7 linked regions of the Homo sapiens genome follow. The protein of the gene in region 6 purifies or fractionates together with the protein of the main gene of each other region. This does not show direct contact. Each region holds a gene or a part of one and is shown on either strand. Other genes may lie near its edges. The genes, in order: FAIM, KCTD9, FBLIM1, ACP6, EVPL, NADK2 and CLIC4.

What was found.
Region 1: the proteins of NADK2 (region 6) and FAIM fractionate together in Homo sapiens (co-fractionation; one large-scale study listed by BioGRID). This does not show direct contact.
Region 2: the proteins of NADK2 (region 6) and KCTD9 fractionate together in Homo sapiens (co-fractionation; one large-scale study listed by BioGRID). This does not show direct contact.
Region 3: the proteins of NADK2 (region 6) and FBLIM1 fractionate together in Homo sapiens (co-fractionation; one large-scale study listed by BioGRID). This does not show direct contact.
Region 4: the proteins of NADK2 (region 6) and ACP6 fractionate together in Homo sapiens (co-fractionation; one large-scale study listed by BioGRID). This does not show direct contact.
Region 5: the proteins of NADK2 (region 6) and EVPL fractionate together in Homo sapiens (co-fractionation; one large-scale study listed by BioGRID). This does not show direct contact.
Region 7: the proteins of NADK2 (region 6) and CLIC4 fractionate together in Homo sapiens (co-fractionation; one large-scale study listed by BioGRID). This does not show direct contact.

The regions. Positions count from the first base shown.
Region 1 is NC_000003.12:138,611,771-138,615,270, forward strand, and holds part of FAIM (fas apoptotic inhibitory molecule 1), read left to right. Parts: intron 1-3,500. UniProt on the Homo sapiens protein: Plays a role as an inducible effector molecule that mediates Fas resistance produced by surface Ig engagement in B cells.
Region 2 is NC_000008.11:25,448,434-25,451,933, reverse strand, and holds part of KCTD9 (BTB/POZ domain-containing protein KCTD9), read left to right. Parts: intron 1-1,452; exon of another isoform or gene 1,453-1,554; intron 1,555-2,263; exon of another isoform or gene 2,264-2,411; intron 2,412-3,500. UniProt on the Homo sapiens protein: Substrate-specific adapter of a BCR (BTB-CUL3-RBX1) E3 ubiquitin-protein ligase complex, which mediates the ubiquitination of target proteins, leading to their degradation by the proteasome.
Region 3 is NC_000001.11:15,761,795-15,765,294, forward strand, and holds part of FBLIM1 (filamin-binding LIM protein 1), read left to right. Parts: intron 1-2,698; exon of another isoform or gene 2,699-2,701; 5' UTR 2,702-2,891; intron 2,892-3,169; 5' UTR 3,170-3,189; coding exon 3,190-3,439; intron 3,440-3,500. UniProt on the Homo sapiens protein: Serves as an anchoring site for cell-ECM adhesion proteins and filamin-containing actin filaments. Is implicated in cell shape modulation (spreading) and motility.
Region 4 is NC_000001.11:147,660,525-147,664,024, reverse strand, and holds part of ACP6 (lysophosphatidic acid phosphatase type 6), read left to right. Parts: intron 1-3,500. UniProt on the Homo sapiens protein: Hydrolyzes lysophosphatidic acid (LPA) containing a medium length fatty acid chain to the corresponding monoacylglycerol.
Region 5 is NC_000017.11:76,006,345-76,010,306, reverse strand, and holds the end of EVPL (envoplakin), read left to right. Parts: coding exon 1-3,204; 3' UTR 3,205-3,462; downstream 3,463-3,962. UniProt on the Homo sapiens protein: Component of the cornified envelope of keratinocytes. May link the cornified envelope to desmosomes and intermediate filaments.
Region 6 is NC_000005.10:36,192,089-36,194,507, reverse strand, and holds the end of NADK2 (NAD kinase 2, mitochondrial), read left to right. Parts: 3' UTR 1-1,808; coding exon of another isoform or gene 1,809-1,887; 3' UTR 1,888-1,919; downstream 1,920-2,419. UniProt on the Homo sapiens protein: Mitochondrial NAD(+) kinase that phosphorylates NAD(+) to yield NADP(+). Can use both ATP or inorganic polyphosphate as the phosphoryl donor.
Region 7 is NC_000001.11:24,751,947-24,755,446, forward strand, and holds part of CLIC4 (chloride intracellular channel protein 4), read left to right. Parts: intron 1-3,500. UniProt on the Homo sapiens protein: In the soluble state, catalyzes glutaredoxin-like thiol disulfide exchange reactions with reduced glutathione as electron donor. Can insert into membranes and form voltage-dependent multi-ion conductive channels.

The sequences.
Region 1 (3,500 bases), on a different chromosome or scaffold from region 6:
TTTCTCTCTGGTCACATGCTCTCTACACAGCCAGCTCTCCTTTGCCTTCTGCCATGAGTAGAAGCAACTTGAGGCCCTCACCAAATGCAGATGCCCAATCTTGAGCTTCTCCAGACATCAGAATCATGAGCTAAATAAACCTTTTTTCTTTATAAATTATGCAACCTCGGGTATTCCTTTGTAGCAGCATGAAAGAGACTGAGACTTCTCATTGTTCCCTTCCCCCATTCCCAGGGAACATCTAATCTGCTTTCTGCCTCTACGAATGTCCCTTTTCTGGGTATTTTATATAAGTGGAATCATATTTGTCATTTTTTGTCTGGCTATTTTTTTTTTTTTTTTTTTTTTGAGACGGAGTCTCGCTCTGTCACCCAGGCTGGAGTGCAGTGGTGCGATCTCAGCTCACTGCAAGCTCCGCCTCCCGGGTTCACGCCATTCTCCTGCCTCGGCCTCTTGAGTAGCTGGGACTACAGGCGCCCGCCACCACGCCTGGCTAATTTTTTTGTAGTTTTAGTAGAGACGGGGTTTCACCGTGTTAGCCAGGATGGTCTCGAACTCCTGACCTCGTGATCCGCCCGCCTCGGCCTCCCAAAGTGCTGGGATTACAGGCGTGAGTCACCGCGCCCGGCCTTGTCTGGCTATTTCACTTAGCATAAAGTTTTCATAGTTCATCCATGTTATAGCATATGTCAGAATATCACTCCTTATTTTGGCTGAATGAAAAGGAATATCCTTTGTATATATATGCATTTTATCACTTCTCAGCCTTTTGGCCGAGATCAAGTGTATGTACCGCGTTTTGTTTATTCTTATGTTGATGGACAACTTGGGTTGTTTTCATCTTTTGGCTATTGGAAAATGCTACAATGAACAATAGTATACAGGTGTCTGAGTGGCTGATTTCAAAACTTTTTGAGTGCATTCCTAGCAGCAGAATTGCTAGGTCATATAGTAATTCTCTGTTTAGGTTTTGAGGAACTGTCATATCATTTTGTATGACAACTTCACCATTTTACAGTCCCACTAGCAATGTACAAGGATTCCAGTTTTTCCACATCCTTGCCAACACTGATTATTTTCTGTTTATTTTTAGTATAGCCATCCTAGTAGATGTGAAGTTGTATTTCATTGTTGTTTTGATTTGCATTTCTGTCGTGATTAATGTTGTTTAGCATCTTTTCATGTGCTTATTGACCATTTGTATGTCTTCTTTAGAATAATGTCTGTGGAAGTCCTTTGCCTTTTTTTTTTTTTTTTCCTGGAAACAGGCTTTTGCTCTTGTTGCCCAGGCTGGAGTGCAATGGCATGATCTTGGTTTACTGCAGCCTCCGCCTCCTGGGTTCAAGCGATTCTCCTGCCTCAGCCTCCCGAGTAGCTAGCTGGGATTACAGGTGCCTGCCACCACACTCGGCTAATTTTTTGTATTTTTAGTAGAAATGGGGTTTCACCATGTTGGCCAGGCTGGTCTCGGACTCCTGACCTCAGGTGATCCACCCGCCTCAGCCTCCCAAATTGCTGGGATTACAGGTGTGAGCCACTGCGCCCGGCCCCTTTCCCATTTTTAAATTGGGTTGTCTTTTGTGTTTATGAGCAGTAGAGTTCTTTATATATTCAGAATATGAAACCTCTATCAGATATATGATTTCCAAATATTTTCTCTCATCCTTGTCCTTTCACTTTCTAGATAATGTCCTTTGATGCACAAAAATTTTAGTTTGTTTTTGTTTTTTTGAGACAGGGTCTATTCTGTTGCCAAGGGTGGAGTGCAGTGGTGCAATCACAGCTCACCTGCAGCCTTGACCTCTCAGGCTTAAGTGATCCTCCCACTTCAGCCTCCCATGTAGCTGGGACTACAGGCATGCACCACCATGCCTGGCTAGTTTTTAAATTTTTTTGTAGAGATGGGGTCTCCCTATGTTGCCCAGGCTGGTCTTGAACTCCTGGGCTCAAGCAATCCTCCCACCTTGGCCTCCCAAATTGCTGGGAATGCGGGTGTGAGCCACCACACCCAGTCAGTTTTAACTTTTGATGAAGTTCAATTTATCTATTTTTTTCTTTTGCTGCTATCCTTTTGGTGTCCTATCTAAGAATCCATTGCCAAATCCAAGATCATGAGGATTTACCTCTATGTTTTCTTCTAAGAGTTTTGTGGTTTTAGCTCTTACATTTAGATCATTGAGATAACTTTTGTATATGGTGTGAGATAGGTGAGGTTCAACTTAATTCTCTTGTGTATGAAAATCTAGTTTTCCCCATAACATCTGTTGAAGAGACTATTCTTTCCCCACCAGTTAGAGTTGGCACCCTTGTCAAAAATCATTTGGCCACAGATATGTGGATTTATTTCTGAACTCTCAAATTCTTTAAGGACAGAAACATTTTCTTCAGGCTGGGCATGGTGGCTTATGCCTGTAATCCCAGCACTTTGGGTGGCCGAGGTGGGAGGATCACTTGAGTTCAGGAGTTTGAGACCAGCTGGGGCAACATGGTGAAACCTCATCTTCACAAAAAATTACAAAATTAGCTGGGTGTTGTGGCACATGCCTATGGTCCCAGCTACTAAGGAGGCTGAGGTGGGAGGATTGTTTGAGCCCAGGAGGTCGAGGCTGCAGTGAATTGAGATCGCACCACTGCACTCCAGCCTGGATGACTAGAGTGAGACCCTATCTCAAAAAACAAAAAAAAAGAAGGATTTTCTTCAAATTTCTGACAGCGTCTAGTACAGTATCTCTTGATAGCAGGTTCAAATGTTGAATGGAAAAACTGAAGCCTGGACATTTATCATAAGAAAACTTTTGTTGTGAAGGTACATCTCCCCTTGAGAAAACAAATAGAGCATAGCTGCTGCAAATCATACAAAACCATAGAAAAATTTAAAAGACATGTACGACCAGGTGCGGTGACTCATGCCTGTAATCTCAGCACCTTGGGAGGCCAAGTCAGGTGGATTACTTGAGCCCACAAATTCAAGACCAGCCTAGGTAACATGGTGAAACCTCATATCTACCATAAATACAAAAATGAGCCGGGTGTGGTGGTGTGTACCTGTAGTCCCAGCTACTTTGGAGGCTAAGGTGGGAGGATCCTTTGGGCCCAGGAGGTTGAGGCTGCAGTGAGCATTGAATATACCATTGCACTCCAGCCTGGGCAGCAGAACAAGACCCTGTCTCAAAACAAAAACAAAAACATGTACAGATGCTTCTTGACTTGTGATGGGGTTATATCCCAATAAACCCATTGCAAGTTGAAAATATTATAAGTTGAAAATGGATTTAGTACACCTAACCTATCAAACATCATGTCTTAGCCTTGCCTACCTTAAGTGTCCTCAGAATACTTACCTTAGCCCACATTTGGGCAAAATCATCTAACACAAAGCCTATGTTACAATGAAGTCTTGGCTGTCTCCTGTAATTTTTTGTACTGTAGTGAAAGTGAATGGTTGTATGGGTACTCAAAGTATGGTTCCTACCAAACACGTATCTCTTTTGCACCATCTT
Region 2 (3,500 bases), on a different chromosome or scaffold from region 6:
ATGGTAAATTGTTTTTGATACTTTATTAGGATTGATTAAAGTGGCAATAAAAGTTGAATTCAAATACACAAATACTTGTGTATTTATTGTGTATTATGTAATAAATCTTGTGGGTATAAAAGAAAAAAATATTTTACATGCATGTGCAGGTTTTAATTTTTAAATTTAAATAATACAGGTTACAATTTGAAAATGGTGTTTAAAGGTAAATTAAAACTAGCCAATCGTACTAGGCATGGTGTTCCATTTACTCTCCAACTCATAGGCAGCTTTCACTTGTCATGGGATCTGAAATTTAAAAATAATTGACTCTGAAAAGTAGTATAATACAGACATCATGAACTTTAATAGACATGCTTCTCAATAAATGTAAAATGCTTCTATTCTTAGGGCCTAAGTTGTTAAGGTAGATAATCCCAGTGACATGGAAACATCAGGCCACATGGTGGAGATAACACATACAAAGTAAATGACCTTTGTAAGCACTATCATTTTATGATTTATTTGGCTCAGTATGAGGACAAAAACAATCTTAGTATATACTAACTGGAGCTTATGTCCATGATATACAAGATTTTTATTGCTCCTCTTTCTCAAAAGAGTTATATAAAGAAGAATGCATGTGCCAGTCTGTTTGCAACTTTCTCCGTAACTTAATCATCTTTTCCATATGTATGACAAATTTATGTTGATATATATATTTTAAAACCTGGTTTCTAATTAGTTTAAAATACAGAGTTTTTGCATATTTGAATATTAGTATTGCAACATAACTCCTTTTTATTTGTATGGTATTGTTAGTATGTGCGAATGATTAGTTGGAAAACAAACGTCAAGAATAGCCCTCCAAGTGAAAACAAGTATATTGGCCCAACTTAAGGGAAATTTTCAAATTTCTAGAACTATAAGATTCTTCGTATTAATTTTAATTCTGTTTTCTCTAATTGACCACCCTTTGGTTATTTCACTTAAAGGAAATTGTTAACTGCCTGATTGCAAACTGCTAAAATAATTTTATTTATAGAACTAGTATCTGGAGCTATGGAGACCTTAAAATAAATTAAAACTTCCCCCCTTATTACAAAAGTAATATAGGTTCATTGTAACAAATTTGGAAAACAAACAAAATAAAGCAAAAAACTTAGCAGGGTGTGGTGGCTCATGCCTGTAATCCCAGCACTTGGGAGGCTGAGGCGGTTGGATCACGAGGTCAAGAGATTGACACCCTCCTGGCCAACATGGTGAAACCCCGTCTCTACTAAAAATACAAAAATTAGCTGGGCGTGGTGGCACGGTTTTACCATGTTGGCCAGGCTGGTCTTGAACTCCTGACCTCAGGTGATCCACCCACCTTGGCCTCCCAAAAAGTGCCGGCATTACAGGCTTGAGCCACCATGCCCAGACTGCTTTAGAATTGCATTTATACTGTGTATTTTTTTACCCTAATGACAGTGTAAGAGACTTAAATGAATATGACTGTCACACAAAAAAGGTGTGTCCTACTTCAACACTCAACATTCAAGAAATATTTGTCAAAGACCTGCTGTAAGCCAGGTAATGTACCATTTGAACCTATGGCGGTTATTAGTAGAACAGCTCAGGAATGTACTTCTTTAGTGCTGCTTATCAGCTTTACCAAGGGATAATTGGTCACCTCTATTCACAGAATTCATAACAACTTTTTGCAAATTAATTTTTTTTATTGGACCTTTAGGATCCAGGCAGACAGCCAGATTAGAAAATATTTAGTGATACGGTAAATTGTTTTTGATACCTTATTAGGATTGATTTAAGTGGCAATAAAAGTTGAATTCAATTTATACCTAGACTGTGCTCCTTAGTAGTTTTACAGCCTACAAGGAAATACCTGTTGTACTTTGATTGCCTTGAAAATAGTCCTTGCCAAGCAGTATGTGTGGTTTTTTTCTATCATCTGGTCACATTTGACTTCAGTGGGGAAGAAACAGAAGATGGCAACATCCCAACCCTCTAAATAAAACAACAAACAGGTCTTGAGTTGTATTTCATCAGTTTGTTACTTTGGGTTCCTATGTCATGGGAAAGCCTAATAGAATTAAAATAGTTGTGTTTTTTTTTCTTCATTTTTTTTTTTCTGCTCTTTAAAATGGCACTGTCTAATAGAACTACTGAGATGATGGAAATTTGTGCTATTCAATATGGTAACAATTAGCCAGTGTGGCAGTTGAGCACTTGAAATGTGGCTAGTGTGACTGAACTGCATTTTAACTTTTAATTTTAATAGATTAAAATTTAAATAGACTCATGAAGCTAGTGGCTTCCACACTGGACAGCACAGCTTTAAAACATGGCAGGTGGCCTTTATTTTCATCGGAAGACAATAGACCCACAGAAAAACCAAGTCAATCATATGGAAGTAGACGACAATTCAAGTTAGTGTATTTTGAATAAGTCATATAAGATCTTAAGCTATAATATTACATTAAGTATTAAGCATAATACAGGCAGGTGCATTCAACTTGCATCTATTTTTTGGTATGGCCAAGAGAGAACAGTGAAAGAGATGCTGAGAGAGAAAGTTGATGTTAGGGCAAGGAGGGGATATCAGGCAAAAGAAAGCCATACTGAGATGTAAGAGCCAGAGGTAAATAAGAGGGAAAAGAAAGATTTAGAAAATTCTTTGTATGATGGCAACTATGCCAAGAACATTGAATTGGGAAAGAGGTGCTTGTGCTTCTTACCCTCTTTTCACAGCACCTTCTGACTGCAGGAGTTGTTTTGCATCTGCTTTGGTCAATCTCTTGCTCCTTTGCATGTTTGCTTCTCTCTTCTCTGTCTTTACTCTCTTCATGCTCTTTGCCTTAACACAACCCCAGCTTTGCCGTGTGCAATGCCCTAGGTACTGTATTTCGCTTCGCTTTGTCCCAGGAATGTGTATAATGCAATTACAGAATACCTCACTGTGTTGCAGAGGTGAACAATCATAGGAAATATGGGGGACATGTTTTAGTCAGGCTTTTTTTTCTTTTTTTTTTTCTTGGAGAAGGAGTCTCACTTTGTCGCCCAGGCTGGAGTGTGGTGGTGTGATCTCAGCTAACTGCAACCTCTGCCTCCCGGGTTGAAGCAATTCTCCTGCCTCAGCCTCCCAAGTAGCTGGGACTACAGGCACACGCCACCACGCCCGGCTAATTTTTTGTATTTTAGTAGAGATGGGGTTTCACTGTGTTGCCCAAGCTGGTCTCGAACTCCTGAGCTTAAGCAATCCATCCGCCTCAGCCTCCCATAGTGCAGATTTTACAGGCGTGAGCCACCGCGCCCAGCCCTACTCAGGCTTTAATTATTTATGGCAAGCCTGCTGTGTGTAGGACACTGTGCCAAGTGCTTTGCAGTATTTTTTTTATTGTGATAAAAGATGGAACAAAATTTATTATTTTAACCATTTTTTAAATGTGTAATTCATTGACATTGTTTACATTCACAATGTGTGTAACCATCACCACGGTTTATTTCCAGTACTTGGT
Region 3 (3,500 bases), on a different chromosome or scaffold from region 6:
TTTTATTATCATCCATCAGTCGCTGTGAACCCAAAGTGGCCAGTGCACTTTGAGATAAGGAGGGAAGCCTGAAGAGCGAGATAGAAAAGGGGACATTTTTAGCCCTGGGCACAGGCATTGGGTGCCTGCTGAGGACTGATGTGCTCACTGGACTCCCAGCTTTCCCACCCATGGCCCCACCTCAGCCTTGGCCACAGGGACTACTGTCAGCAGGAACTACCTGAGAGATGGGAAATAATGTCCTTTTCCTGACATCAGGGTATCAGGGTGCCACCATGCTCTCTGATTTATGCTTTTCTTTTTTTTTTTTTCGAGACAGAGTTTCACTCTGTCACCTCGGCTGGAGTGCAGTGGCACAATCTCAGCTCACTGCAACCTCGCCTCCCAGGATTCAAGCGATTCTCCTGCCTCAGCCTCCTAAGTAGCTGGGGACTACAGGTGCATGCCACCATTTCTGGCTAATTTGTTTTTTTTTTTTTTTTTTTTTGAGACAGACTCTTGCTCTGTTGCCCAGGCTGGAGTGTGGTGGTGCAATCTCGGCTTACTGCAACCTCCGCCTCCCGGGTTCAAGCAATTCTCTGTCTCAGCCTCCCGAGTAGCTGAGATAACAGGCGTCTGCCACCATGCCCAGCTAATTTTTGTATTTTTAGTAGAGACAGGGTTTCACCATCTTGGCCAGGCTGGTCTTGAACTCCTTACCTCGTGATCCAACCACCTTGCCCTCCAAAAATGCTAAGATTACAGGCATAAGCCTCCACGCCAGGCCAAATTTTTGTATTTTTAGTAGAGACAGTGTTTCACCATGTTGGCCAGGATGGTCTTGAACTCCTGACCTCAAGTGATCGCCTACCTCCCAAAGTGCTGTGATTACAGGCGTGAGCCATCGGGTGGCCAGATCTGGGTTTTGATGCCTGCGCTCTGATATCCTCTAGGCACACAAAGAATGCAGACACCGGTCAGACGCATTGATAGTGAGCTTGTGAGCCAGCCTGTCCTGCCCTGGGGCTATCATCGCTTTCGTCCACCCTTGGCAGCAGGAAACTGCCCCTGGAGAGGGCCAGGAATCGGGGGGTGCCTTGTGGAAGAGGTGATGTTTGAGCTGGGCCTCTAAGAGAAAGCTGAAATTCACCCTGTGGGGGCAGGACAGGAAAACCATAGAAGAAACACTGCAAGGCAAGAGAGAGGACATAGGAAGGGCGAGTGGTCCAGGGGCTCAAAGAGGCTGAGGCTGCCGCAGTTGGACTTCATCCTGAGGTGGTGGAGAGCCATACTTTTTTTCTTTTTTTTTTTTTAGACAGAGTTTCGCTCTTGTTGCCCAGGCTAGAGTGCAATGGTGCCATCTCACCTCACTGCAACCTCCACTCCCACGGGTTCAAGTGATTCTCCTGCCTCAGCCTCCCAAGTAGCTGGGATTACAGGCGCCCGCCAGCACACCCAGCTAATTTTTGTATTTTTAGTAGAGATGGGGTTTTACCATGTTGGCCAGGCTGGTCTCGAACTCCAGACCTCAGGTGATCCACCTGCCTCTGCCTCCCAAAGTGCTGGGACAGAGTCTCACCGGGGTGCGATGGCTCACGCCTGTAATCCCAGCACTTTGGGAGGCTGAGGTGGGCGGATCACGAGGTCAGGAGATCAAGACCATCCTGGTTAACATGGTGAAACCCCATCACTACTAAAAATACAAAAACAAAATTAGCCGGGCGTGGTGGCGGGCACCTGTAGTCCCAGCTACTCGGGAGGCTGAGGCAGGAGAATGGCGTGAACCTGGGAAGTGGAGCTTGCAGTGAGCCAAGATCGTGCCACTGCACTCCGGCCTGGGCAACAGAGCAAGATTCCGTCTCAAAAAATAAAAATAAATAAAAAAAGACAGAGTCTCGCTCTGTTGCCCAGACTGGAGGGCAGTGGTGCAATCTTGGCTCACCACAACCTCGGCCTCCCAGGTTCAAGCGATTCTCCTGCCTCACCCTCCCAAGTAGCTGGGATTACAGGTGCCCACCACCACGCATGGCTAATTTTTGTATTTTTAGTAGAGATGGGGTTTCACCATGTTGGCAGGGTGGTCTCAAACTCCTGGCCTCAAGTGATCCACCTGCCTCGGCCTCCCAAAATGCTGGGATTACAGCTGTGAGCCACCATGCCCGGCCCATGGAAGGTTTTTGAGTAAAGGAGAAAGAGATTGATGCTCTAGAAAGATCAGGGTTAGGAGGTGAGACCAGAGGCCATGGAGCCTCCCCATCTCTCCCCTTGCCCCCTGCCCACTGCCCAGGCCTGAACCAGGACCCAGGTTTTGGAGATTGGGTGGAGTGAGAGAGTCTGGCACTAGAAAGCAAGCAAGGAGGGTGCTGGCTCATGTGCAGGGCTGAGAAAGGTCAGAGCAGAGCAAAGTGGCCAAGAGCATGGGCTCTGGGTTCCAGTGCCACCTCACCACCGTGTGACCCTGGACAGGTGACTTCTCTCTGAGTCTCGATTTCTTGATGTGTTAGGTGGGTGATGATAGTGCCTGCCCTGCAGCCACCTTGTGAGTGTTTATGAGTTAATGAGCATAACGTGTGAGTGTTTATGAGTTAATGAGTATAACATGCTCAGGGCAGAGCCGGTCTTGGTGAGGGCAGCTCTCACTGTGCCCTGCCCACTCTGCCGCCGGAGCCTAGCCCTGACGCCCTGGCAGATCCTGATCTGTTCTCTTTCCCTCCCAAAGCAGAGCTGGCCTGAACCTCCAGGACTTCAGCCCTTCTAGGAGAATCTGATCCCAGGTGAGGGAGGTCACTTGGGGTGTGGCCCAGCAGGCAGGCGGGACTCCAGACTGGGAACGGAAGTCAGCCCTGCTGGGGCTGGGAGCTGAAGCATCTGTTCCTTCCTCGCGGGTGTGAGACAAGGAAGAGTGATCATTGGTGAGGGCTGCCCTTTGCTCCCCTAGGTGTGCAGGTTCGGGGGAGGGGCAGTCAGGACTTTTGGGTCTCACCCCTGTGGCCAAGTTCCCTGGTGGGTCCTGTCTTCCCCAGCAGGACACCCCCACCCCTTCTCTGGCTGGGCTGGGTGCTGGACTGAGTTGTTGAGATGGTAGGGTGGCTGGCCTGTCTTTTTGGGAGGAGGGAGGCTCTCTCCTCTCGGGGGAGGGTGGCTGTGTGTCTGGGTGGCAATCCTGTGCTGTACCCCACTCTGTCCCTAGCCACACCAGGAGCTGAAGCCATGGCCTCAAAGCCTGAGAAGAGGGTGGCATCGTCTGTCTTTATCACCCTGGCACCCCCGCGCCGCGATGTGGCCGTGGCGGAGGAAGTGAGGCAGGCAGTTTGTGAGGCCCGGCGTGGCCGCCCCTGGGAGGCTCCTGCCCCCATGAAGACACCCGAGGCTGGCTTGGCGGGGAGGCCCAGCCCCTGGACAACCCCTGGCAGAGCTGCAGCCACAGTGCCGGCTGCACCTATGCAGCTCTTCAATGGAGGTAAGAGCTGAGGGGACTTTGGGGAAGACCACGTCAGAGGCAGAGGTGGGGAGGAAAGGGC
Region 4 (3,500 bases), on a different chromosome or scaffold from region 6:
AGTTCGGGGAGGGTAGAAGATAAATATGACGATATGTGACATAGTAGGTTTCCAAATGTTAGTTTTAAAACTAAACAAAGTAGTAGGAAATTGAGTTAAATTTTTTTTGTTATCAATGTTATAGGAATTCAGATTTAAAAGATAACCATCAAAAGCCAGAGTGGTCAGTGATAGGGAAGTAAGACTTGAGCTATCCTTGAACATTGAAGACAAGGTGATGGGCAGATAGGAACAGGAGTCCCTCCAAGCAAGAGAAGCAAGCTGGAAGAAGATGCAGAAACAGTGGGCAGGTTCTAGGTTGGAGGGGAGGAAAGAGGCAGTGAAGCTGAGTACAGGGGCTGGACAAAGGGGGTAGAAGTCCTTTTTTAAAATTTTTTTAAGAGATGGGGTCTTGCTGTGTTGCCCAGGCTGATCTTGAACTCCTGGCCTCAAGTGATGCTCCCACCTCAGCCTCCCAAAGTGCTAGGATTACAGGTATGAGCCACTGCACTCAGCCACGATGTAGAAGTTCTTGAAGGACAGATGCTTTCCTCTGAGACATTAGGAAAAAGTTACTGATATGATGACACTGGCTTAGCAAGATTAATTAGGTGATTTTGAAACATACAATGCATTATTATTTATTGTAGTCACCATCCTGTACAATAGATCACTAAAGCTTATTCTTCCTGTGTAACTGAAATTTTGTACCCATTGATAAAAATCTCTCTTTCCCCATTTACTGCACCCCCCCACCTCTGATAACCATCACTCTACTCTCTAATTCTGTGACTTTGACTTCTTTAGATTCTACACAGACAAGCATACCTTGAAGATATTGCAGATTCAGGTCTAGACCACCACAATAAAGCAAATATCGCAATAAAGTGAGACCCACAGTTGTTTTTTGTTTCCCAGTGCATATAAAAGTTGTGTTTACACTCTTCTGTATCCTATCATGCAATAGCATGTCTAAAAATGTACATACCTTAATTTAAAAATGTTTTATTCCTAAAAAGTGCTAGTGATTACCTGAGCCTTCAGTGAGTCATGATCTTTTTGCCAGTGGAGGGTCTTGCCTTGATGTTGATGGCTGCTGACTGATCAGGGTAGTAGTTGCTAAAGGTTGGGGTGGCTGTGGCAATTTCTAAAAATAAGACAACAGTAAAGTTTGCCACATTGATAGACTCTTCCTTTCATGAAAGATTTCTCTGTAGCTTATGACACAGTTTAATAGCATTTTACCCACAATAGAACATCTTTTGAAATTGGAGTCAATCTTCTCAAACTCTGCCACTGCTTTATCAATTAAGTTTATGTAATAAATCCATTGTTGTAATTTCAACAGTGTTCACACTATCTTCACCAGGACTAGATTCCCTCTCAAGGAACCACTTCTTTGTAGTAACTTCTCATGCATTCAAGTTTTATCATGAGATTGCAGCAATTCAGTCAGAACTTAAGGTTCCACATCTAATTCTAGTTCTCTTGCTATTTCCATCACATCTGCAGTTACTTCTTCCACGGAAGCCTGAATCTTCAAAGTCATCCATGAGGGTTGGAGTCAAATCTTCCAAACTTCGCTTAATGTTGCTATTTTGACCTCCTCCTTATAAATGTTCTTAATGACATCTAGAATGGTGAATTCTTTCCATAAGGTTTTCAATTTACTTTGCCCAGATTCATCAGAGGAATCACTATCTAGGGCAACAATAGCCTTACAAAATGTATTTCTTAAATAATAAAGACTTGAAAGTCAAAATTACTCCTTGGGCCATGGGCTGCAGAAAGGACATTGTGTTAGCAGGCACAAAAACAATATTAATTTTGTACATCTCCATTAGCGCCTTTGGGTGACTAGGTGCATTGTCAATGAGCAGTAATATTTGGAAAGGAATCAATTTTTTCTTTTGAGCAGTAGGTCTCAACAGTGGGCTTAAAATATTAAGTAGACCATGCTGTAAACAGATGTCCTGCCATGCAGGCTTTGTTGTTCCATTTATACAGCACAGTCAGAGTACATTTAGCATAATTCTTAAGGGCTGTAGGATTTGCAGAATAGTAAATGAGCCTTGGCTTCACCTTAAGGAAACCAGCTGCATTAATCCCTAATGAGAATCAGCCTGTCCTTTGAAGCTTTGAAGCCAGGCATTGACTTTCTCTCTAGCTATGAAAGTCTTAGCTGGGATCTTCTTCCTATATAGGCTGTTTCTTCTGCATTGAATATCTCCATGTTATCAATAAGGTTGTTTCACTTTCTCATTGTTTGTGTGTTCACCAGAGTAGTACTTTTAATTTCCTCCAAGAACTTTTCCTTTGCATTCATAACTTGGCTGTTTGGTGCAAGAGGCATAGGTTTTGGCTTATCTTAGCTTTCTACATGCCTTCCTTACTAAGCTTAATCATTTCTAGCTTTGGATTTAAAGTGAGAAACTTGAAACTTTTCCTTTCACTTAACACTTAGAGGCCATTGTAGGGTTATTAACTGGACTAATTTTAATATTGTTGTGTCTCAGGAAATAAGGAGGCTCAAGGAGAGGGAGAGAGATGGGGGAAATACCAGTCAGCAGAGCACTCAGAAAACACACAACATTTATTGATTAAGTTTGGCATCTTATATGGGGGCGGTTTGTGGCGCTCCCAAATAGTTAAAATAGTAACATCAAAGATCACAGAGTTCAGGATCAGCCTGGGAAACATGGCAAAACCCTGTCTCTCAAAAAAAAAAAATTAGCTGGGCATGATGGTATATGCCTGTAGTCCCAGCTGCTCGGGAGGCTGAGGTGAGAGGATGAGCCAAGGTAATGCCACTGCACTCCAGGAGGCAGACGTTTCAGTGAGCCAAGATCATGCCACTGTACTCCAGCCTGGGCAACAGAGCCAGACCCCATTTCAAAAAGAAAAACAAATCATAAATCATAGATCACCTTGACAGATTTAATAGTAATGAAAAAGTTTGGAATATTATGAGAATTACCAGATTTTACACAGAGACATGAATGAGCACATGCTGTTGGAAAAATGGCACTGATAGACTTGCTCAATGCAGAGTTCTCCAAACCTTCAATTTGTGAAAAATGCAATCTCTGTAAAGAGCAATAAAATGATGTATGCCTATGTTACTAAAAGGTTAACTTTACATATTTTCATCACGTAAAAATGAAAGTATGTGAGCTGATGGATTTTGTTTACATTAGTTAATCATATATCAAATGTAAATATATATGAAAACATCACATTGTACTCCATAAATATATACAATATACAATTATTTGTCAATTAAAAATAAAACAAAATATTTAAATGCAATAAAAATATTTTTTCCAAAAAGATTAATTAGTTGGCTATGGATAGATGGATTGTGCAGGTGAAAGGGAGGAGTTTGTCACAGGCACTAATAAGGTTTACATTCTACAATAAGATAATGGAAGGACCATTGGGAGGGACTTTTCTTCTAGGCAGTGATCAACAGGGCTTGGTGTGGGGATAGTGGATCCACAGGGAGCCAAAGGTTTGAGGTT
Region 5 (3,962 bases), on a different chromosome or scaffold from region 6:
CAGCTGGAGGGCAGCCTGTCCAGGGTGAAGGCCCAGGTGGAGGAGGAGGGCAAGCGGCGGGCTGGCCTGCAGGCAGACCTGGAAGTGGCAGCCCAGAAGGTCGTGCAGCTGGAAAGCAAGAGGAAGACCATGCAGCCTCATCTGCTGACCAAGGAGGTCACCCAGGTGGAGAGGGACCCCGGCCTGGACAGCCAGGCGGCCCAGCTCAGGATCCAGATCCAGCAGCTCCGCGGGGAGGATGCCGTCATCTCGGCCCGGCTGGAAGGGCTGAAGAAGGAGCTACTGGCCCTTGAGAAGAGGGAGGTGGACGTGAAGGAGAAGGTCGTGGTGAAAGAGGTAGTCAAGGTGGAGAAGAATCTGGAAATGGTCAAGGCAGCCCAGGCTCTGAGGCTGCAGATGGAGGAGGATGCTGCGCGGAGGAAGCAGGCGGAGGAGGCTGTGGCCAAGCTACAGGCTCGCATCGAAGACCTGGAGCGGGCTATCAGCTCGGTGGAGCCCAAGGTCATCGTGAAGGAGGTGAAGAAGGTGGAGCAGGACCCAGGGCTCCTCCAGGAGTCCTCCAGGCTGAGGAGCCTCCTCGAGGAGGAGAGGACCAAGAACGCGACGCTGGCCAGGGAGCTGAGCGACCTGCACAGCAAGTACAGCGTGGTGGAGAAGCAGAGGCCCAAAGTGCAGCTCCAGGAGCGCGTCCACGAGATCTTCCAGGTGGATCCGGAGACAGAGCAGGAGATCACTCGGCTCAAGGCCAAGCTGCAGGAGATGGCGGGCAAGAGGAGCGGTGTGGAGAAGGAGGTGGAGAAGCTGCTGCCCGACCTGGAGGTCCTGCGGGCCCAGAAGCCCACGGTGGAGTACAAGGAGGTGACCCAGGAGGTGGTGAGGCATGAGAGGAGCCCCGAGGTGCTGCGTGAGATCGACCGCCTGAAGGCTCAGCTCAACGAGCTCGTCAACAGCCACGGGCGCTCCCAGGAGCAGCTCATCCGCCTGCAGGGTGAGCGCGACGAGTGGAGGCGCGAGCGGGCCAAGGTGGAGACCAAGACGGTGAGCAAGGAGGTGGTGCGCCACGAGAAGGACCCGGTGCTGGAGAAAGAAGCAGAGCGGCTCCGCCAGGAGGTGCGGGAGGCGGCCCAGAAGAGGCGGGCCGCGGAGGACGCGGTGTACGAGCTGCAGAGCAAGCGCCTGCTGCTGGAGAGGAGGAAGCCCGAGGAGAAGGTGGTGGTGCAGGAGGTGGTGGTCACCCAGAAGGACCCGAAGCTGCGCGAGGAGCACAGCCGGCTGAGCGGGAGCCTGGATGAGGAGGTGGGCCGGCGGCGCCAGCTAGAGCTTGAGGTGCAGCAGCTGCGGGCCGGCGTGGAGGAGCAGGAGGGCCTGCTCAGCTTCCAGGAGGACCGCAGCAAGAAGCTGGCCGTGGAGAGGGAGCTGCGGCAGCTGACCTTGAGGATCCAGGAGCTCGAGAAGCGGCCTCCCACGGTGCAGGAGAAGATCATCATGGAGGAAGTGGTCAAGCTGGAGAAGGACCCGGACCTGGAGAAGTCCACGGAAGCCCTGCGGTGGGACCTGGACCAGGAGAAGACCCAGGTAACCGAGCTGAATCGGGAGTGCAAGAACCTGCAGGTCCAGATTGACGTCCTCCAGAAAGCCAAATCGCAGGAGAAGACCATCTACAAGGAAGTGATCCGGGTGCAGAAGGACCGCGTCCTGGAAGATGAGCGGGCCCGCGTGTGGGAGATGCTCAACAGGGAGCGCACGGCCCGGCAGGCCCGGGAGGAGGAGGCACGGCGCCTGCGGGAGCGCATTGACCGGGCCGAGACGCTGGGGAGAACCTGGTCCCGGGAGGAGTCCGAGCTGCAGAGGGCCCGGGACCAGGCCGACCAGGAGTGTGGGCGGCTGCAGCAGGAGCTGCGGGCTCTGGAGAGGCAGAAGCAGCAGCAGACACTGCAGCTGCAGGAGGAGTCGAAGCTGCTCAGCCAGAAGACGGAGAGCGAGCGACAGAAGGCGGCCCAGCGGGGCCAGGAGCTCTCGCGGCTGGAGGCGGCCATCCTCCGCGAGAAGGACCAGATCTACGAGAAGGAGCGGACGCTCCGGGACCTCCACGCCAAGGTGAGCCGGGAGGAGCTCAGCCAGGAGACCCAGACGCGAGAGACCAACCTTTCCACCAAGATCTCCATCCTGGAACCCGAGACGGGGAAGGACATGTCCCCATACGAGGCCTACAAGAGGGGCATCATCGACAGGGGCCAGTACTTGCAGCTGCAGGAGCTCGAGTGTGACTGGGAGGAGGTCACCACCTCGGGGCCCTGTGGGGAGGAGTCTGTGCTCCTGGACCGCAAGAGCGGGAAGCAGTACTCCATCGAGGCCGCCCTCCGCTGCCGGCGCATCTCTAAGGAGGAGTACCATCTGTACAAGGACGGCCACCTGCCCATCTCCGAGTTTGCGCTGCTTGTAGCTGGGGAGACCAAGCCAAGCTCCTCACTCTCCATCGGCTCTATCATCTCCAAGTCCCCGCTCGCCTCCCCGGCCCCCCAGAGCACCAGTTTCTTCTCTCCCAGCTTCTCTCTCGGGCTCGGTGATGACAGCTTCCCTATCGCCGGGATCTATGACACAACCACAGACAACAAGTGCAGCATCAAGACGGCCGTGGCCAAGAACATGCTGGACCCCATCACTGGGCAGAAGCTACTGGAGGCCCAGGCGGCCACAGGGGGCATCGTGGACCTGCTCAGCCGTGAGCGCTACTCTGTGCACAAGGCGATGGAGAGGGGCCTGATCGAGAACACCTCCACACAGAGGCTGCTTAACGCCCAGAAGGCCTTCACCGGCATCGAGGACCCCGTCACCAAGAAGAGGCTCTCGGTGGGCGAGGCCGTCCAGAAGGGCTGGATGCCCCGGGAGAGCGTGCTCCCACACCTGCAGGTGCAGCACCTGACCGGGGGGCTCATCGACCCCAAGAGGACAGGCCGCATCCCCATCCAGCAGGCCCTCCTCTCCGGGATGATCAGTGAAGAGCTGGCCCAGCTCCTGCAGGACGAGTCCAGCTACGAGAAGGATTTGACAGACCCCATCTCCAAGGAACGGCTGAGCTACAAGGAGGCCATGGGCCGCTGCCGCAAAGACCCCCTGAGCGGCCTGCTGCTCCTGCCAGCGGCACTGGAGGGGTACCGCTGCTACCGCTCCGCCTCCCCCACCGTCCCGCGCTCCCTTCGCTGACACGGGCCAAGGAGCCAGTGGGGAAGTGCGTGTGTTGGGCCAGGTAGGATACGTACACCTCTTGCCTCAGAGCAGCCTCATCCCAGGCAGTGGGTCTTCCCTCTGTCCAACCACTGTTTTATTATTTTACTAACATGGTGATGGGCTCCCTCCCCTAACCTTGGTGCCTGATCCATCCCCAGACCAGGACAGCAGCCACTCAGTTCTTCCTCCACCTCCACCCAGTGATCCCAATAAACGAATTCTGTCTCCCCGTGCCATGTGGTGTCCCATTCATTCACATTTGAGAGTGCAGGACCCATGTGTCTGGGGGATGAGTGCAAGGACAGCGTTGCTCAAGTCCTTGCCTGGGCGGACGTGCTCAATTTGCCTGCCTGGGAAACAGGCATCCTCGGAGGGCTGTGCCTCCTTGAGTGCGGGGCAGGGATGCAGTGGCAGGTCATGGAAAGAGATTATGGTTTAAAATCACTAAAGGAGGCCGGGCACAGTGGCTCACACCTGTAATACCAGCATTTAGGGGGGCCAAGGCGGGTGGATCCGAGGTCAGGAGTTCGAGACCAGCCTGACGAACACGGTGAAACCCCGACTCTACTAAAAATACAAAAATTAGCTGGGTGTGGTGGTGCACACCTAAAATTCCCGCTACTCAGGAGGCTGAGGCAGGAGAATCACTTGAACCTGGGAGGCGGACGTTCCAGTGAGCAGAGATCATGCCACTGCACTCTACCCTGGGCAACAGGGTAGACCTGAGACAGCGA
Region 6 (2,419 bases):
GCAGTTCTGGGTGAAATACAGATAGCAAAACAAATCATGATGCTGTTACAAATGTATTAGTTATCCAATAAGTGTTTTAAGTCAATTTTTTTAAAATGATATGAGTCTTACAGGTTTCTTCCATCTTTAAAATGCTCAAACATGGATTCAGGGACTAAAAGGATGAACTGATTAGACATTTTCTATTAGGAGTTTGGTAAAATATTGTAAAAATATCTTCACCTGTGTTAGGAGTATTATCAGAAAGAATGGATTCTTTAATAAATATGTAAAACACAGTAGTTTTGGAATTGCCTTCCTTAGTATTGTGGTTTTCACCTAGCTTATATTCCAAGATTTACAGAATAGCTTTTAGGATAAGATGTTAGGACTTTTTTTTTTTCCCCATGAGAATTCCTTTATTTTTGGAGGAAATTATTATCTAATTATTGATCTACTTATAAGTAATCCTAGAATTTTTGCCAAAAGATCCTGTCGTTGCATAATCAAACAGTTGGTATTCTCGTGCCGTTGTTCAAAGTCATGTGTTTCTTTCATTTGGTGCTGAAAATTTCTGTTCAATCATTGACAAATATTTATTGAACACCCACTCTGTGCCATGTAAAACTATGTCAGGTGCTGGATATGTTGATGAATGAAACAGACTCTATCCTTATACAATTTGAGTCTTGTGGGCTCAGAAGTAAATTCTGTGAAAGCTGGACGGATAGTCGAATTGAGTGCTCTTAGTTTTGCCAATATTTAACATGTTGTTCTTATCAATTTTTTAAAATAAATGTTAATGTACAAAGTTAATCTAGGTTTTGATGTATATCCAGAGAATCAATTTTTCTTAAAGTATCTGCGTAGACATTCATAGCAAAGAATTTATGACATATCAGATAGAAATACATTAAAATGTAGTGTTTTCCCAGAGATTGATCTGGCTTTTTTTTTTTGATATACATAAGATACCACTTTATAAAGAAGCTCCATACTATAGAACCTCCCCTAACAGGCTTAAAATACCTTCTTTTTTTTTTTTTTTTTTTTTGAGAACGGAGTCTTGCTTTGTCACCCAGGCTGGACTGCAGTGGCATGATCTCGGCTCTGCAACCTCCATCTCCCAGGTTCAAGCGATTCTCCTGCCTCAGCCTCCCAAGTAGCTGGGATTACAGGCAGGCACCACTATGCCTGGCTAATTTTTTGTATTTTTAGTAGATATGGGGATTCACCATGTTGGTCAGGCTGGTCTCGAACTCCTGACCTTGTGATCTGCCTGCCTCGGCCTCCCAGTATTGGGATTACAGGCATGAGCCACCATGCCCGGCCTTAAAATGCCTTCTTAAAGGAAAAATGCCAACTCCATCCTTAATCTCAAGGAAATCTGATTGTCCAAATAGATCTGTTAATATGTAACATATTAATAGGTAACTTGCTGTGTAAAATTATAAGCCATATTTTAAAAGGTTTTAAAAATACTTATTGTGCTCCATTTGTGATATAATTTCTAACATTTCTGCTCTGTGATGGGGGTTTATTTGTAAGAATAAGAGGCAAAGGAATGTTAGCATAGCAAAAATGTGTTTGAATGAGTTAACCTTTTAATCGCAACCCTATGTGAATAAAATTACTCCACTGTTACCTCTTCTTTTTAACATTTCTTATTTCCCTCTCAAGGGGTCATTATTTGAAAACTAGTTTTCACAAAATGTTATGTTTCAGAAGTGTTTCCCCACTGCTGTGTATTATTATTCTGTGCCCTGTTGACTTCATTCACTGTTAACATTTGACATAGAATGATTAGTTATTAAATCAGGGTGAAGTGCTTACCTGGTCAGTGTAGGCTCTTCAGATAATTTTGACTTAATATTTTTGATACTCCTTGTGCATTTACATTCATGGCCCCTGTACATTAAATCATATTACATGTTTTACTACATTGATTTCACTTTTTAATAAGCAGAAAGAGAGCCAGGTAACACATTTTTATTGTAAAATATCCACTTGAGTTGAAAAAGTTGTCAAATACAAGTTTAAGGATACGTTATATATTTTGCTTAGTTGTGAAAATAATGTACATTTAGAATTTAAATCACTTAAATTCATTCCATTGTACCAATATTATTTATGCATCCTTATACTTAAGAATAGCATCTACTAAGACAATTATGCAGAAAAGATCCCAGGGATAATGCAACACCTAAATATAATGGTGGGGGAGATAAGAGTAAATGTACTAATGAGTTGTCTAACTAAAGAATAGTTCAATTTTATTTTTTCAAAGGCATTTTATTCTTGACTTTAACATTAAAAGTACTCAAGGGATTGGGGCATAAGTCAGTGAGAAGGCTTATTAAGTTTTCTACATTAAGGTATGAAGAGTTTTTAAGTCTTACGGGCTTTAAGACTTTTTTTAAAGAAAATCACTGACTACATG
Region 7 (3,500 bases), on a different chromosome or scaffold from region 6:
CCACTGTGAACTGGGATGATCACTGTCAGCAAGTAGTCACCAAGCTGCTGGGATTGGGGTGGTGTTTGTAAAAAGTTAATCTGGTGCAGGGTGGCATAACACATAAGAGTCTGTTTCTTTTGAGATATTTGGCAGAGGTTCCTAATGTGCTTGGACTCTGGAGCCACACTGCTTGACTTGAATCTGGCTTCTAGTATGTCAGGCAAGTTTTTAAGCTCTCAGTGCTTCAGTTTCCTAACTTCTAATATCAGGATAATAATAATAGCAATTTTATATGGTTACTGAGGGGATTAAAACTGTTAATCTGTGCATATTAGTTAGGGTAGTTTAAGTTGCTGTAATAAGTTATCCCCCCACAAACAGTGGTTCAAATATGATGGAAGTTTATTTCTCACCCCTCAGTCCAGGAGAATGTCTTAGATGTTAGGGTGGCTTTCCTCCTCAGAGTCATTAAGGGACCCGGGCTCTTTCTAGCTTATTTGTCCACTAACTCCCAGAGCATTGTCCTCTTCTGAATTGTCAAAGTTGGTGGGTGACAAGTACTGTCTGTTGCCAGTGGGGGGTGGAAAATATGGAGGAAGCACATCTTAAGGGCCCCAGCTCAGAAGTTCTACCTGTTACTTCCGGTCACATTCTATTGGAGAGAACTTAATCACATAGCTTCATCTGCAAGAGAGGCTGGCAAGTGTGGTCTAACCGTATACCATCCTATGTAAAGCTTTAGGAAGAGTGCTTGACACATAGTAAACACCTGCTTTTGTCATCGATAATAGTTTATTATTATTATTTTTTTTTGAGACGGAGTCTCGCTCTGTCGCCAGACTGGAATGCAGTGGTGCAATCTTGGCTCACTGCAACCTCTGCTTCCCGGGTTCAAGCGATTCTTCTGCCTCAGCCTCTGGAGTAGCTGGGACTACAGGCGCGTGCCACCATGCTCAGCTAATTTTTGTATTTTTAGTAGAGATGGGGTTTCACCGTGTTGGTCAGGATGGTCTCGATCTCCTGACCCCATGATCTGCCCGCCTTGGCCTCCCGAAGTGCTGGGATTACAGGCGTGAGCCACCGCGCCCAGCCTAATAGTATATTATTTTTAAATGTGGGCTCTATTAGTAGGATCAGGGAGTTCTGTAAATCCTTGAAATTACAGTAAAAAATTCTAATGTGAGGCTTTTTTTCTGGAAATTCCTAAACCAAGGCTAAGAACCACTGTTCTAAAAGAAGTAAATAGTGGAATTCTTAGAGTCAAGAATACTTTATATAAGCAAGGTATAAAAGAAGGGCTTGGGCTAGATGATCACAAAGGTCTCTTCTAGTTATTATTAACTATGACTTAAAGAATGTACCGGCATGAACTAAGTGCTAATACTGAGTTAAGTACTATGGAAGATATAAGAAATTATTAAACAGTTAATTTCTTTAGGTTTACAAATTTTATTGGAAAGAAAACAATACAAGATGGTCCATGCTTAAAGAGTCAAGTGGGGCTCACATTAAGTAGGGCTAGGAGACATGGGGAAAGATGGAAGGAGGCTTAAACTTGACCTTGAAAAAGGAGGTGAATAGGTGGGTTCGGAATAGCCAAGAATGGGAATGTGAGTTTTGACATTATGTGGAAACTCCTTATGCAGGAAACAATTGGTAGATTGATACCTAAGAAGGAACCAGGAGTGATTCAGATCTATAGTGCCAGGGAGACAAGTTATTTAAAAGTTGAGGATGAGACTTTTAAAACCTAACTTGGGTTTTTGTTAATGTATACATTTTCCTAACTTTTTTCATTCTCCCCACACTTTCCTGTGTTTTTGGATTGCTGTCTGTTTAATAACTTTTCAGTGGCACTTGGGAAGGTGCAAATGGATTGTACAGATGGACTGTTTTGACAGTTTAAAGTGGGAATTCTTTATATTGTTTCAAGGACAGGCTTCAAACTTCCCCCCGTCTTTGTTTTTTCTAACAGAAAAAAATGAAATAAATTTTCTATAGGAAATGATGCTGAAAACTGTTCTGGTAATTAACAAAAGCTAACTCAATATTCAGACAATATTACCTTGAATCTAATTGATTTGCCATTCATTTGAGGTTTCCGGGGGGAAAATTCAGGAGACAGAAATGAATGTAAAGTATGAAGTTAATGAAAACCTATTATTTTAACTTTTTGCCTGAGCTGTTCCTGAAGACCTAATAATGCTACTTTTGGCAAAGGCCAAATTTGATGATTTTGGTTTAATGTAAAAACCTGTGAGAAAGGAGCCTAGAATGGGGAAGAGGCAGGAGGCTTTGAGCCTAGGAGACTGAGCACACGAAAAGCTTAACAGAGTATGAATAATGATAGGAAAGAGGCAATTGGGAGAAGAACCTGGCTGTCAGGAAATGTCACAGTTGGTTTGGGAAGATGCCTGCAGAGGTGCCTAGAAGCCAGTAAGTAAGGATGGTGAGCCATCCTTTTCCGCTTCCTGTTTCGTTAGAGCTGTGGAGCCTCCGTGTTCTGATGTCCCCTGAGTAGGGAATTGTGAGTCCATAAAAGGAAAATGTGTTAGGCAGGATGGGAAGTGTGATTAAGGCATGAGTTAAGATTTTGGTCAAGTAGAGGAGTAAGCTAGGATGGGTTTGCCTGTTTTAGACGCTTGCATAGAGAATGGAAAGGGACTTTCTGAAGGAAAATGACATTAGGTCATGGTTACCTATTGTCCAAGGATGATTTAAGACATGTAAATGTAATTTAGGGCATCAGCTAGTGAATTTTCTCATGGCTTTTAATTATATTGTCTATTTCGAGACTTGCCTCTTATCTCTCAGTGGTCAGTTCCAGATATTGGTATAAGAAATAAGAAATAACAATGATAGGCCCACTGCCATGGCTCACACCTGTAATCCCAGCACTTTGGGAGACCGAGGTGGGTGGATCGCCTGAGGTCAGGAGTTCAAGGCCAGCCTGGCCAACATGGTGAATCCCTGTCTCTACTAAAAATACAAAAATTAGCTGGGCGTGGTGGTGGGCGCCTGTAATCCCAGCTACTCGGGAGGCTGAGGCAGGAGAATTGCTTTAACCTGGGAGGCGGAGGTTGCAGTGAGCTGAGATTGTGTTACTACACTCCAGCCTGGACGACAGAGTAAGACTCCGTCTCAAAAAAAAAAAAAAAATTATAGGCTGGGCAAAATAGTGAGTCCTCATCTCTATAAAAACTAAATTTTTGTATTTTTAGTAGAGATGGGGTTTCACCATGTTGGTCAGGCTTGTCTTGAACTCCTGACCTCATGATCTGCCCGCCTCGGCCTCCCAAAGTACTGGGATTACAGGCGTGAGCTACCACTCCTGGCCCCATCTCTACTAAAAATACAAAAATTAGCTAGGCATGATGGTGCACGCCTGTAATCCCAGCTACTCAGGAGGCTGAGGCAGGAGAATCTCTTGAACCCGGGAGGCGGAGGTTGCAGTGAGCTAAGATCACACCACTGCACTCCAGCCTGGGCGACAGTGAGACTCTGTCTCAAAAAAAAAA